2 separate regions of the Homo sapiens genome follow, and region 2 is linked to region 1. A link means that fine-mapping ties the variant in region 1 to the expression of a gene that starts in the linked region. Tissue or cell type: whole blood. Region 1 holds a variant in brackets; the other region holds the start of a gene. All regions are shown on one strand. Distances are from middle to middle.

Region 1 (8,108 bases):
AGGTGGTATCTCATTGTGGTTTTGATTTGCATTTCTCTGATGGCCAGTGATGATGAGCATTTTTTCATGCTTTTTGGCTGCATAAATGTCTTCTTTTGAGAAGTGTCTGTTCATATCCTTTGCCCACTTTTTGATGGGGTTGTTTTTTTCTTGTAAATTTGTTTGAGTTCATTGTAGACTCTGGATATTAGCCCTTTGTCAGATGAGTAGGTTGCAAAAATTTTCTCCCATTCTGTAGGTTGCCTGTTCACTCTGATGGTAGTTTCTTTTGCTGTGCAGAAGCTCTTTAGTTTAATTAGATCCCATTTGTCAATTTTGGCTTTTGTTGCCATTGCTTTTGGTATTTTAGACATGAAGTCCTTGCCCATGCCTATGTCCTGAATGGTATTGCCTAGGTTTTCTTCTAGGGTTTTTATGGTTTTAGGTCTAACATGTAAGTCTTTAATCCATCTTGAATTAATTTTTGTATAAGGTGTAAGGAAGGGATCCAGTTTCAGCTTTCTACATATGGCTAGCCAGTTTTCCCAGCACCATTTATTAAATAGGGAATCCTTTCCCCATCACTTGTTTTTGTCAGGTTTGTCAAAGATCAGATAGTTGTAGATACGTGGCATTATTTCTGAGGGCTCTGTTCTGTTCCATTGGTCTGTATCTCTGTTTTGGTACCAGTACCATGCTGCTTTGGTTACTGTAGCCTTGTAGTATAGTTTGAAGTCAGGTAGCGTGATGCCTCCAGCTTTGTTCTTTTGGCTTAGGATTGACTTGGCAATGCAGGCTCTTTTTTGGTTCCATATGAACTTTAAAGTACTTTTTTCCAATTCTGTGAAGAAAGTCATTGGTAGCTTGATGAGGATGGCATTGAATCTATAAATTACCTTGGGCAGTATGGCCATTTTCATGATATTGATTCTTCCTACCCATGAGCATGGAGTGTTCTTCCATTTGTTTGTATCCTTTTTTATTTCATTGAGCAGTGGTTTGTAGTTCTCCTTGAAGAGGTCCTTTGCATCCCTTGTAAGTTGGATTCCTAGGTATTTTATTCTCTTTGAAGCAATTGTGAATGGGATTTCACTCGTGAATTGGCTGTTTGTCTGTTATTGGTGTATAAGAATGCTTGTGATTTTTGCACATTGATTTTGTATCCTGAGACTTTGCTGAAGTTGCTTATCAGCTTAAGGAGATTTTGGGCTGAGACAACAGGGTTTTCTAGATATACAATCATGTCATCTGCAAACAGGGACAATTTGACTTCCTCTTTTCCTAATTGAATGCCCTTTATTTCCTTCTCCTGCCTGATTGCCCTGGCCAGAACTTCCAACACTACGTCGAATAGGAGTGGTGAGAGAGGGCATCCCTGTCTTGTGCCAGTTTTCAAAGGGAATGCTTCCAGTTTTTGTCAATTCAGTATGATATTGGCTGTGGGTTTGTCATAGATAGCTCTCATTATTTTGAGATACGTCCCATCAATACCTAGTTTATTGAGAGTTTTTAGCATGAAGGTTGTTGAATTTTGTCAAAGGCCTTTTCTGCATTTATTGAGATAATCATGTGGTTTTTGTTTCACTGTCTTGAACTCCTGGCTTCAAGTGATCCATCCACCTTAGCCTCCCAAACTGCTGCCACCATGCCCGGCCCTAATTTATTTCTTTGTCATAACAGATATTATTTCTATAATAGATTATTTGCATTATATAGTATATTGGTGTGTGTGTATATATATACACATATATACACATATATATACACATATACATACAGTATATTATATACTATAACCATATAGATATCAAGCAGACTAGATGCTACCATAGGAGAATTTTTTTAAATCTTGGGGATATGATAGCCTTTCTAGGAAAGAGTAAAAGCAACAACAAAAAACCCTAGAAAGTTAGAAAAAGTAATGTGACTATATGAAAATCAAAAATAATTCAGCCAGGCATGGTGGCTCATGCCTGTAATTCCAGCACTTTGGTAGGCCAAGGTGGGCCAATTGCTTGAGTCCAGGAGTTTGAGACCAACCTGGGCAACACTGCAAAACCTTGTCTCTACAAAAGATTAGCCTGGCATGGTGGCACATGCCTGTAGTCCCAGCTACCTGGAAGGCTGAGGAGGGATGATCACCTGAGCCCCTGAGGTTGAGGCTGCAGTGAGCTGTGGCTGCCACTACACTCCAGCCTGGGTGACAGAGTGAGACCCTGTTGCAATAATAATAATAATAATAATAATTCACTGCAAAAATACAGTAAACAAGCCAAAAGACAAAGGGGGTAAAAGATAAGTAATTTATTCATATTGGACTACTTTCATTATTTTATATATATATATATGCATGTATACATATCTATGCACTACAATTTTTAAAAAGACCAACAACTGAATAGAAAATTAAAAATTAAATTTGATAATGTACTGTATAGAGACGTGTTGAAACAGTGGTCCTGACAAATTGTTATGGGAGCCACAACTGACATGAACTATATATGGATATTAATTTGGTAACATATATGGAATGTTTTAAGTCCGTACCTTACAATATAGTCAATACATACATATATACATTTATAATTTTTCTTAACCCATGGAATGTCTTTGAAAGGATATGCAAGAAACTGGTCAACAGTGGTAGTCTAAGAGGAAAGAAAGCTGGGGGCAGGAGGCAGTGGAGGATGAAAACTGTCTTTTCACTGCATATATTTTTGACACAATTGAAAATTTTAACCATGTCATGCATATTATCTAGTCTTCTGTACAAAAAAAAAAGGAAAAGAAAATGACATGTGGATATAAGACTGAAAGATTTGAAAGCTGTTGCAAGATGGCCGATTAGAAGGAGCTGCAGTCCACAGCACTCACTGAAGGGAATGTAAAGGCGCGAGTGAATTCAGCACCTTCAACTTAAATATCCAGGTTCTTGCATTGGGACTAACTAGGCAAATAACTCTACCCACGGAGAATGAAGAAAAGCAGGGGGCAGGGGACGACACCCCATCTGGGAGCTACAGGGAGCCAAGGGAACCCCCATCCCCAGCCAAGGGAAGTAGTGAGTGATTGTGCGACCCTGCCTGGGAAACCACGCTTCTCTCACAGATCTTTGCAACCCCATGGATCAGGAGTTCCCCTCCTGAGCCCATGCCACCTGGGCCTTGGGTCCAAAGCAGAGAGCTGTGTGGAATCTTGGCAGAGCAGCAGCTGAGGCACACACAGAGACTAGGGAGTTTTACATACTCCAGCCCCGGGATCCCTGGCAAGGTGGGAAATCCCTCCCTACATCTCCTTGGGAAGGGGGCTGAATGCAGGAAGCCAATCAGCATCATTCTGTGGGTCCCACTTCCATCGTACCCCACAAGTTAAGACCCACTGGCTTGGAATTCCAGCCAGCCAATGGCAACAGGCTGGAATCTGCCTGAGATGGGTCTGGGTTCCAGAGAGGGAGGGGCGGCCGCCATCTCTGCAGTTCAGTAGCAGACTCAGCTGTTCCAGCCTAATGGCTTTGAAGAATACAAATAGTCCGAACGAGGAAGGGTCCTCCACAACGCAGCACAGCGGCCTTGCTAGATTGTGGTCTGACTGCTTCTTTAATCAGGACTCTGATCCATTCCTCCTCATTGGGCGGGATCTCCCTCCAGGGGCTTCAGACACTCCAGCCAGGGTTCTAAAATAGAACTCTCATCCCTCTTTGGGATGGAGCTCCCATGGGGAGGGGCAGCTGCCATCTCTGTGGTTTGGTTGACTCAGCCGTTCCAGCCTGCTGGCCAAAAGACTACAAATGATCTGGATGAGGAAGGGTCCCCCCAATGCAGTACACTTACTCTACCAAAAAGCAGCCAGACTGCTTCTTTTTTTTTTTTTTTTTTAAATGGAGTCTAGCTCTGTCACCAGGCTGGAGTGCAGTGGCGCAATTTCAGCTCACTGCAACCTCCACCTTCTGGGTTCAAGCGATTCTCCTGCCTCAGCCTCCTGAGTAGCTGGGATTACAGGCATGCACCACCATGCCGGGCTAATTTTTGTATTTTTAGTAGAGACAGGGTTTCACCATATTGGCCAGGATGGTCTCGATCTCCTGACCTCGTGATCC[G/A]CCCACCTCAGCCTCCCGAAGTGCTGGGATTACAGGCGTGAGCCACCGTGCCCGGCCCAGACTGCTTCTTTAAGCGGGTCCCTGATCCCGTTCCTCTTGACTGGGTGAGACCTCTCAACAGGGGTCTCCAGCCACCTCTTACAGGTATGTTGGGGCAGGCAACAGGTCAGTACTCCCCTGGGATGGAGCTTCCAGAGGAAGGAGCTGGTTGCCATCTTTGCTGTTTTGTATCCTTCACTGGTGATACTTCCAGGTATGGGAAAAACTGAGGCAACTAGGGTCTCGAGCAGACCCCCAGTAAACCACAGCAGCCCTTTGGTAGAGTGGCCTGGTTATTAAAAGTAAAACAAACAAACAAACAGAAAACAACAACAACATCAACAAAAAAGACTCCACAAAAACCCCATTCAAAGGCCAGCAACCTCAAAGATCGAAGGCAGATAAGCCCACAAAGATGAGAAAGAATCAATGCAAAAACACTGAAAACTCAAAAAGCCAGAATGCCTCTCCTCCAAATGACTACAACACCCTCCAGCAAGGGCACAGAACTGGGCTGAGGCTGAGATAACTGAATTGACAAAAGTAGGCTTCAGAAGGAGGGTAATAATGAACTTTGCTGAGCTAAAGGAGCATGTTGTAACCAATGCAAAGAAACTAAGATCGTGATAAAACAATACAGAAGCTGATAGCCAGAATAGCCAGTTTAGAGAGGATCATAACTGATCTTATGAAGCTGAAAAACACAACATAAGAACTTCACAATGCAACCACAAGTATCAATAGCAGAATAGCATGAAAAGGAATGAACAAAACCTCTGAGAAATATAGGATTATGTAAAGAGACCAAACGTATAAATGATTGGGGTACCTGAAAGAGATGGGGAGAATGGAACCAAGTTAGAAAACCAACTTCAGGATATCAACCAGGAGAACTTCTCCAACCTGGCAAGACAGGCCAACATTCAAATTCAGTAAATGCAGAGAGCCCCAGTAAAATACTCCATGAGACCATCAACCCCAAGATACATAATCATCAGATTCTCCAAGGTTGAAATTAAAGAAAAAATGTTAAGAGCAGCCAGGAGAAAGGCCAGATCATGGCTGGGCGCGGTGGCTCAAGCCTGTAATCCCAGCACTTTGGGAGGCCAAGGCGGGTGGATCACGAGGTCAGGAGATCGAGACCATCCTGGCTAACATGGTGAAACCCTGTCTCTACTAAAAATACAAAAAATTAGCTGGGTGTGGTGGCGGGCACCTGTAGTCCCAGCTACTTGGGAGGCTGAGGCAGGAGAATGGTGTGAACCCAGGAGATGGAGCTTGCAGTGAGCCGAGATTGCACCACTGTATTCTAGCCTGGGCAACAGAGCCAGACTCCATCTCAAAAAAAAAAAGAAAGCCAGATCACTTACAAAGGTGACCAGACTAACAGACTAACAGCTGACCTCTCAGCAGAAACCCTACAAGCCAGAAGAGATTGGGGGCCAATATTCAATATTCTTAAAGAAAAGAATTTCCAACCCAGAATTTCATATCCAACCAAAGTAAGCCTCATAAGTGAAGGAGAAATAAGATCCTTTTTAGACAAGCAAATGCTGAGGGAATTTGTCACCACCAGGCCTACCTTCCAAGAGCTCCTAAAGGAAGCCCTAAATATGGAAAGCAAAAACCATTACGAGCCACTACAAAAACACACTGAAATACACAGACCAGTGACACTATAAAGCAACCAGATAAACAAGGCTGCAAAATAACCAGCTAGCATCGTGATGACAGGATCAAATTCACATGTAACAATACTAATCTTAAATGTAAATGGGCTAAATGGCCCCAATTAAAAGACACAGAATGGCAAGCTGTATAAAGAGCAAGATCCATTGGTATGCTTTCTTCAAGAGATCCATCTCATGTGCAAAGACATACATAGGCTCAAAATAAAGGGATGGAGGAAAATTTACCAAGCAAATAGAAAACAGAAAAAGGCAAGGGTCGCAATCCTAGTTTCTGACTAAACAGACTTTAAACCAGTAAATGTCAAAAAAGACAAAGAAGAGCATTACATAATGGTAAAGGGTTCAATGCAACTAGAAGAGCTGACTATCCTAAATATATATGCACCCAATACAGGAGCACTCAGATTCATAAAGCAAGTTCTTAGAGACGTACAAAGAGACTTAAACTCCATGCGATAGTAATGGGAGACTTTAACACCCCACTGACAATATTAGACAGATCATTGAGAGAGAAAATTAACAAAGGTATTCAGGACCTGAACTCAGCTCTGGATCTAAAGGACCTGATAGATATCTACAAAACTCTCCACCCAAAAACAATAGAATATACATTCTTCTCAGTGCCACATGGCAGTTACTCTAAAATTGATCACACAATTGGAAGTAAAACACTTCTCAGCAAATGCAAGAGAACTGAAGTCATAACAGTCTCTCACACCATAACGCAATCAAATTAGCACTCAAAATTAAGAAATTCACTTCAAACCACACAACTACATGGAAATTGAACACCTGCTCCTGAATGACTCTTGGGTAAATAATAAAATTAGGCAGAAATCAATAAATTTTTTGAAACTAATGAGAACAAAGAGATGATGTACCAGAATCTCTGGGATGCAGCTAAAAGAGTGTTAAGAGGGAAATGTTTAGTGCTAAATGCCCACATCAAAAAGCTAGAAAGATCTCAAGTTAACAACCTAACATCTCAACTAAAAGAACTAGAGAACCAAGAGCAAAGAAACCCCAAAGCTAGCAGAAGACAAGAAATAACCAAGATCAGAGCTGAACTGAAGGAGATAGAGACATAAAAAACCTTCTAAAAAAAAAATCAATAAATCCAGGAGCTGGTTTTTGAAAAAATTAATAACACCACTAGCTAGATTAATAAAGAAGAAAAGAGAGAAGAATCAAATAAACACAATCAGAAAAGATAAGGGGGATATCACTGACCCCACAGAAATACAAACAACCATCAGAGAATACTATAAACACCTCTATGCACATAAACTAGGAGGTCTAGATGAAATGGATAAATTCCTGGACACATACACCCTCCCATGACTGAACCAGGAAGAAATTGAATCCCTGAATAGACCAATAACAAGTTGTGAAATTAAGGCAGTAATAAATAGCCTACGAACCCAAAAAAGCCCAGGACCAGATGGATTCACAGCTGAATTCTCCCAGAGGAACAAAGAAGAGCTGGTACCATTTCTACTGAAACAATTCCAAAAAATTGAAAAGGAGGGACTCCTCCCTAACTCATTCTATGAGGCCAGCATCATCCTGATACCAAAACCTGGCAGAGACACAACAAAAAAGGAAACATTGATGAACATCGATGCAAAAATCCTCAATAAAATACTGGCAAACTGGGCTGGGCATGGTGGCTCATGCCTGTAATCCCAGCACTTTGGGATGCCAAGACAGGCAGGTCACTTGAGGTCAGGAGTTCCAGACCAGCCTGGCCAACATGGCAAAACCCCATCTCCACTAAAAATGCAAAAAATTAGTCATACATGGTGGTGCACGTCTGTCATCCCAGCTACTCAGGAGGATGAAGCAGGAGAATCGCTTGAACCTGGGAGGTGGAGGCTGCAGTGAGCTGAGATTGCATCACTGCACTCCAGCCTCGGTGACAGAGCAAGACTCTTTCTCCAAAACAAAACAAAACAAAACAAAACAAAACAAAACAAAAAAAACTAGCAAACTGAATTCAGCAGCACTTCAAATAGCTTATCCACAACGATCAAGTAGGCTTCATCCCTGGGATGCAAGGTTGGTCCAACATACAAAAAACAATAAATGTGATTCAACACATAAACAGAACTAAAGACGAAAACTACACGCAGAAAGACCTTTGATAAAATTCAACATTCCTTCATGTTAAAAACTCTCAATAAACTAGGTATTGAAGAAACACCTCAAAATAATAAGAGCCATATATGACAAACCCATGGCCAATACCCTACCGAATGGGCAAAAGCTGGAAGCATTCCCTTGAAAAGCAGCACAAGACAAGC
Region 2 (8,108 bases), 44 kb before region 1:
AATACTAAATACTGCTAAATTAATGTTCTGTGAAGTTTTGAAAGTACTAGGGCCAAGAGACAATATGGCTGCTTAGATGACTTTCCATCCAAGTTTACATTCAGCCCTCATCACCAAAGCTGATATGTGTGTGCCTCTTTCTTGCAACCCACCAGGGACTAACACATCATATACCACTTTTGGAATTAGGAAACAGGCTCAGAAGTCCAAGAGCTTGACCAAAGGAACTCAGTTGGTAGGTAGCAGAACCAGAATTCAAAGACCCAGGTCAGCATGATTCTTCTATAATATCCTGCCACTTACATGGGCAAGTGGCCTCAAAATCAACAAAAGACAAGTAGAGGTTGACATGTGACAATGGAGAGAGGCTCAAAAGGAAGTTTGTACACAAAAATACAAAAGGAAATGTTCTGGAAGTATGTCTGGGGATGTGAAGTAGGAGCAGGCACACCAGGTTTACCTTGGTCAAGTGAATCTATAATTCCAACCTGGGCCTTTCCCCAGAGCTCCTGACTTAGCTCTTATCTGTCTTTCTTAGGCAAATATAAAATCCACAGGGCAGGACCTTAATCTCCAGCTTGTTCACCACAGATTAAAGCAGAGTTTGAGGCTGGATGCAGAGGCTCACGCCTGTAATCCCAGCACTCGGGGAGGCCAAGATGGGTGGATTCCCTGAGGTCAGAATATCGAGACCAGCCTGGCCAACATGGTGAAACCCTGTTTCTACTAAAAATACAAAAATTCGTTGGGTGTGGTGGTGTGAGCCTATAATCCCAGCTACTTGGAGTCTGAGGCAGGAGGATTGCTTGACCCAGGATGCAGAGGTTGCAGTGAGCTGAAATCGTGCCATTGCACTCCAGCCTGGGTGACAAGAGCGAAACTCCATCTCAAAAACAAACAAACAAACAAAAACACAGACTTTTTTTTTTTTTTTGAAATGGAGTCTCACTCTGTCACCCAGGCTGGAGTGCAGTGGCACGATTCGGCTCACTGCAACCTCCACCTCTTGGGTTCAATAAATTCTCTGCCTCAGCCTCCTGAATAGCTGGGACTACAGGCTCCTGCCACCATGCCTGGCTAATTTTTTTGTATTTTTAGTAGAGACAGGGTTCCACCATCCTGGACAGGTTGGTATTGAACTCCTGACCTCGTGATCCACCTGCCTCAGCCTCCCAAAGTGCTGGGATTACAGGCATGAACCACCACGCTCAGCCGAGTCTGACTTATGGTAAGTGCTTAATATATGATAAATGAACAAACTGAATGAATGAATATATGATAACTGAATAAATTTATGAATAAATGTACAAACTATCAAATAAGCTAAAGAAATAGTCCACATTGTTGGGGAAAGGGGTTACCATGAAACAGACCCTAGCAGTCACTTACAAATACAGTTCATCTTCATTATTTGTGGATCCCATATTTGCAAATTTGCTTACTTGCTAAAATGTCTTTGTAATCCCCAAATACTTGTGGAGCTTTCAAGGTGACTTATGGATATACACATAGTAGTGAAAAATATGTCACTCCTTGCCCAAGTCCCAAGGTGACCCTCAGCCTTGTCTCAGCCCTCATACAAAGATGACCAGAGGACAGAGACAGCAGAGGGCAGTGCAGCGTAGTGCAAGAAGCTCTGGCTCTGGGGCCATCTGGACGAGTCTGAATCTTAACTCTGGCACCTGTTAGTAGAGAGGCCTCAGGCAAATCGCTTAACACTTCTGTACTTCCTTTATTTTTTGTAAGTAAGGAAAATTCAATCTACCAGGATGAGTTGTTTTTAGGAATTAATTTTGTAATCTGTGTGAGATATGTATATATGTATATATTTTCCCTGGGAACAAGGGTTGAATATTTGATAATTCAGTGTTCTTGGCAACTTTATAGAATATAACTACTGCAAATAATGAGAATTGACTATAATTATTTATAAAGAAATAACAGAGAAGTAGGCAAAACATTTGGATGAGGCAGAGGCAGGCTTCAAGATTTTGAAGAAACAGAATTTCACCAAGCACATAAGGTGTGGAAAAGGCTTGCAAGGAGAGAGAATGGTGCATACAGAGAGAGGTCCAGATGGTGGAAAAAAACAGGTAGGTTCAGGAAATGGCACTTCAGGAAGTCTAGAGCAGTAGGAGATGAGATCAGAACACAGTGCCATCGTGCTTCTCTGCACCCTGTATATACCTTCTACTGCAGAACCTCACTCTCTGCATTTAATTATTGGTTTCTAGTTCTCTCTTCCATTAAACTGTGAGCTCCTCAAGGTCTCTAAGAAGAAATCATAGCTAGAGTCCTCTAAATTTGCAAACAAGTTATTATTAAACACAAATACTCCCAAAAAAGACTGCACAAAAATAACTTTGGTTTTCAGCTGCAGTCACAGCAATTCACAACTGTTACAGATTTGCAATTTGTCCAGGATTTTTCTCTGATGACTGCTGTAACTCTGTCATAAACTCTTTTCCTTGTTTTAGACACCCAGACATTTGTTGGAACAGTTTTAAGATCTTACTCTTTTTAGTGTAATTGATTGATTGGTTGATTGACTGAGATGGGGTCTCACTATGTTGCCCAGGCTTGTCTTAAACTCCTAGGTTCAAGCAATCCTCCTGCCTCAGCCTCCTAAGTGGCTGGGATTACAGGCACACACCACTGTGCTAGGCTCTAGTGTGATTTATTAACAAGGCTTAAACATATGGTCCATTAGACAAGGCTGCCACCTCAGAGTAAAGATTTCTTTTAATTCACTATAATAGACTTTTTTCTTTATATACAAGATACAATTTTACCACAGTAAAATACAAGGAAGCATACTGATACATACATTACAAACAGGATAAAGAAAGCAATATAATTTTTTCCACAAAAGCTTGCAAAATCCTGGCCAAAACACAGTGAACATGATGTTAAACTCATAGCTTACATTTCTCCACTGAAAGCTAGGAAAAACAATTCCAATTTTTGAAAAGTCAGGAAACTAAGCACTGTGAGAATTTACAAGATTTTGTAAACCTGTATATTCTCCCCACCCCGATATACAAGTAGCCAGAGGAGCCTATCAGTCTTACCCCAACACTTCAATCTCCTCCAACCTTCAAAATAAAACCCTCACTGTCCAATATCTGAATTTATATTTTCAAACGTCTAAAATCTTAATCAAAGCTAAGAGCAGTGCATTAGCTTTTCCCCATAAAATTGTTGGCATAATTTTACTTAGGCACAGCATAGTTTGTACTGTTATCAAAAAACATATGGCTAGAACCGACATTACTAGAAACCAAACGAATATACTATGAAGGTGAAAAGGGAACAGGGAATGTTGTTTTTGGACAGATTCAATGCTGTTATTATCCCTTCATAGGTTGGGTGTGATCGAATCACACTGTGCTGTACAACTAAGTATGTTCTATATTTTATGACAAAGTAGGGTAGCCAGGCCCTTACACTACAAACTCCCAGAAACCCCAGTTAAGCTGTTTAAAGTATAATCCAATTCAATTTACTGAAAATAATAGTAACAAAATTTAAATCCCTTGCTTCTAGTTAGCCCTTTTCAACTGCATTTTCAGCAATTACCACCAAAAGAACTGCATTAGGACAAAGATTCTAGAGCGGGTATAATGGTCAAATGCCATTTGAAGGCAAAAACAGTCTACCAGGAACAAAACATTAAAGTTCCCAACCTTGCCAAACTCCCTGTTCTGCGTATTCTGCCTCTCTCAGTTCACCTTCCAGCTGCCTGGAAGAGGCAAGTGGAAAATGTTAGTTTTCTGGAGAGATGAGAATGGAATTTAGGGGTTGGTAGGGGGTGATGGGCTCACTCACGGACCGCAAGGCACAAGAGAAGTGGCGAACGTCTCCCAGGCAAATGAGGCATGAAGAATGAGGGCTGGAGTCAAGGGGGAGATGGAGCAAGTATAAAAAGGCAGAGGACGCGCAGGGGCCGCGAATAGGGGAAGGGCACGACGCGCAATCCCTCCCGCTCCAGCCCGGGGAGAGGGGCGGGGGATGCCGCGCGGGTCAATTTGCCTAGCATTGTTGCACCTGGGTAGAAATGGGACTCAGGCCAAGAATTCGGTTCGAGTGTTAGGAGGACGCTGAGGGGAGTCAGGAACTTGGGTGGGAGTCGGGGGGAAACAGAGCACCTGTGCGGGGGGGAAAGGGACGAAAACCCCCTATTGCTCCCGAGGGGCAGGGGCTGACCCCAGCGGACGCCCCTTTTCGCCGATGGCCGCGACGTGGGACCCCGCGCGCTTTCCCTCCCTACAGGAGCTCGGGCAGGCGCGTGCCGCCCTTCACAGCCCCGACGGCGGCAGAAAGGGAGGCGCAGGGCGCCCCCAGAGCCGGGAGAACGGCGTTTCCCTCGAGTCCTTTCCCCAGCAGCCCGGGCACCCGAGCCCACCTGGGCTAACCAGAAGCCCCTCCTTCAGATCGTACTCTGCCACTCCTCCGAGAGCTTAAGCCGTTGCCGTAGAGGTCGCCGTCGCCACAACAGTCTCGGCCTTTAGTACCAAAACGTGAAGCACAGCACCCGAGAAGCGCCACTACCACTTGCCAGGTTATCTCTTACTGCACACTGCCTCCTCGCCCCGCCCCCGAACCCAAGCCATTGGTTGCCGGGCACCGCCCCATTCGTCTATTGGGCCAAAGAAGATGCCGTTCGGTCACCTAGAATGGCATATGTGGTTTTTATTGGTCTAAATGTGAAGCAGTGCCCGCCCACTCCCTCAGAAGTTTCAGCTTCTGATTGGTTTTAATGTCTGTCTTTTCTCTTCCTTCATTTTTTTTTTCCTGTGGTGGAACACCTCCTTGAGGGAGATGCCGGCTCTGATTGGCTGAAAGGACGCTACGCTAGCCTGGGATAGGCATTGGGCCAAGGATGCGCCCGGCCCACTCGTGGGGGAGGAGACCAAGGCGCCGCACTCTGGGTTTGTTTACACAGGCTCTTGCTCCCGCTTCGTCTATTGGCTGAGCTGGAAGCCACTGCCACCGAGTTTTGCCTGTCAGCCTAGCAAGGAGGAGGGTGGGGGTGGGCCTCAGTAGGATTTCCCTCAGCTGTCAATTACCAAAGGAGGAGCTTTGATTCAGGCTGCTTTGGACCTGGTGCTATTCTCTGTAGGGAAAATTAAGGAATTGGGCTCCTTGGGAGGCTGGAAGGAAGCAAAGGGACGCTGGAAGGAAGCAGACGGATGCTTCCACGTTTCTAGAAACAAACCTAACTTCTTGAGTGCTTTAAAAAAATAAAACTTGGCCGGGCGCGGTGGCTCACGCCTGTAATCCCACCACTCTGGGAGGCCGAGACGGGCGGATCACAAGGTCAGGAGTTCTAGACCAGCCTCGCCAGTATGGTGAAACCCCGTCTCTACTAAAAATGCAAAAATTAGCTGGGCGTGGTGGCGGGCTCCTGTAGTCCCAGCTACTCGGGAGGCTGAGGCAGGAGAATCACTTGAACCCGGGAGGCAGAGGTTGCAGTGAGCCAAGATCGCACCACTGCACTCCAATCTGGGCAATAGAGTGAGGTTGCGACTCAAAAAAAAATACATCAATAAATACAAATTAAAATAAAACTTTATTGCCTCCCTTGGATTTAGAATGTCCAATCTGCTTGCAAAGGACTTCGAATTGTATTCCACAGGAAGTAGGGATTTCTTTGTGGAGCTCTTACTTTATACATTTTTCTCTCCCCCCCACCTCTCAAGCTGACTGTATACATGACACAAAGTTAGGGAATTGCAGAATGAATGGAAAAAATATAAAAATGAAAAAGATAAACTCAAATAACAATTATAAATATTAGCTGTATACTTTGATATGGTTTGGCTCTGTGTCCCCACCCAAATCTCATTTTGAATTATAATTCCCAATGTTGGGGGAGGGACTTGGTGGGAGGCGATTGGATCATGGGGGCAGATTTCCCCCTTGCTGTTCTCGTGATAGTGAGTGAGTTCTCACAAGGTCTGATGGTAAAAAAAGTGTGTGTCCTTCCCCCTTAGCTCTCTCTCCCTCTTGCTACCATGTGAAAACGTGCTTGCTTCCCCTTTGCCCTGATTGTAAGTTTCCTGAGGCCTCACCAGCCATGCCTCCTGTACAGCCTGAGGAACGGTGAGTCAATTAAACCTCTTTTCTTTATAAATTACTCAGTCTCAGGTAGTTCTTTATAGCAATGTGAGAATGGACTAATACATACTTCATATTAAATGATATAAGTAAATAAATAAATTCATTCAACAAGTATTATTTAGCATCTACTATGAATGTTCTAGGCTCTGATCATGGAACTGGGTATATGATATGAATAAGACAGTGAAGATGCACCCATGGTGTTTATACTGTAGTGAAGGAGACTGACAACAGAAAAGTAACCAATAAATAATAAAATGGTATGTTGTGAATAAATGCTACAAAGGAAAATAAAGCAGAGTCATGGGATGGTTGGGGAAATGGCTATTTTAAGTAGGATGGTTAGTTTAAGAGCTGTTTGAGGAAACAGCACTGAACAGAGATGTGAATAATGTGAAGAAGTGAAGAGTGGGAAGGGGCTAATAAGCAGAGCCACTACAGTGCACAACTCCAGGATCACTATTCACATTGCTCCATGTATTTTGAAGTTGTGTATTAGGTGTACATCCATTTAGGGCTGCCAACTCTGGTTTAAAGCTTTATTTGATTACATAATTTAAATGACGCCTGCAAGAAACATGTGTCTTTTAGAAAAAAAAAAATCTCTCTCTAGGATAGCATCCCCATACCCTCCACTGCTTCTTTCCCTGAATTGGCCTTCCGGTGTATGATGAGAGAAAGTTTACACAATCTCATAGGTTTGAAAAACAGGCTCTTCTGGTCCACGTGGTGTCCTTGAGCAGTCAGAAATACTCCTTGAGGATGAACCTTTATTACCAGGATAGCAATGGGATGTAAGGAAGGGTTGATGAACTTCTCTCGTCTCACTTCCTACCACTGGTGCCATCTATTATAAATTCATGGCTGGCTATTACCAGTGATAAAGAGAAAAGTCTTAAAAGCAGGCAGAAAAAAAATATGGCCATTTTAAGTAGAATGGTTAGTTTAAGAGCTGTTTGAGGAAAGACCATTGAACAGAGATGTGAAGAAGTGAAGAGCAGGAAGGGGCTGGGAAACATACAGAGGGGAAAAAATAGATAAGAATTACAGCAAATTTCTTATCAGAAACTATGGAAGCCAAAAGACAATGAAGGAATGAGGTAGCAATGTGGGTATCTGGTGGTGGTGGGCAGGGACAGATATGAGACAAAAACCAGTCATAAAGTTGTAGGAGATGATGTCAATGAGAGGGAGGGAGGCAAGAGAAGCCCATCACCCTTCCCCACATCCTATTGCTATTAGGGCAATAAATCTTCAACCTTGAAGATTACATCATTTCATTTTTTAAAATTTAATTGTGGTAAAATATATATAAAATTTACCATCTTAACTATTTTAAGTGTACAGTTCAGTTACAGTAAGTACATTCACATTTTTGTGCAATCATCACCACAATCCACCTGCAGAACATTTTCATCATTCCTAACAAAAATTCTGTACCCATTAAACACTAACTCCCCATTCTCCCCTTACCCCAGCCCCTGGAAATCACCATTCTGTTTTCTGTATCTGTGAATTTGACTGCTCTAGGTATCACGTGTAAGTGAAATTATGTAATATTTGTCCTTCTGTGTTTGGCTTTATGTCTCCCACGTTTAAGTATCAGAATTTCTTTTCTTTTTAAGGCTGAGTAGCATCATTATAGGTATATGTCCTATTTTGTTTATCAATTCATCCATTGATGGACATTTGGGTTGTTTCTATCTTTTGCCTATTGTGAATAATGTTGGTATGCAAATATCTGTTCAAGGGCCTGCTTTCAATTATTTTGGGTATATATTCTGAAGTAGAATTGTTAGGCCATATAGTAACTCTATGTTTAATTTTTTGAGGAACCACCGTACTGTTTTCCACAGTGGCTGCACCATTTTGCATTCCCGCCAACAATGTACGAAGTTTCCAATTTCTACACATCCTTGCCAACAGTAGTTTCTTTTCTGTTTTTTTTTTTTTTTTTTTTAAATAATAGCCATCCTAATGAGTGT

The links. PIP is the estimated chance that this variant, and not a neighbour inherited with it, causes the effect.
Region 2: it holds the start of PAIP2B, and the variant in region 1 is fine-mapped to the expression of PAIP2B in whole blood (TOPMed, PIP above 0.99).

The regions. Positions count from the first base shown.
Region 1 is chr2:71,266,219-71,274,326 of GRCh38, forward strand. The region is part of intron 2 of LOC105374797 (a long non-coding RNA gene); the gene reads right to left. Among named protein-coding and RNA genes, the nearest start is that of PAIP2B, 43 kb to the left of the region's middle. The variant G/A (reference allele first, on the strand shown) is at 4,076.
Region 2 is chr2:71,222,523-71,230,630 of GRCh38, forward strand. PAIP2B (poly(A) binding protein interacting protein 2B) reads right to left here and starts at 4,581. Exons shown (of 4, transcript NM_020459.1): 1 at 4,406-4,581. RefSeq lists enhancers at 4,011-4,511, 4,727-4,866.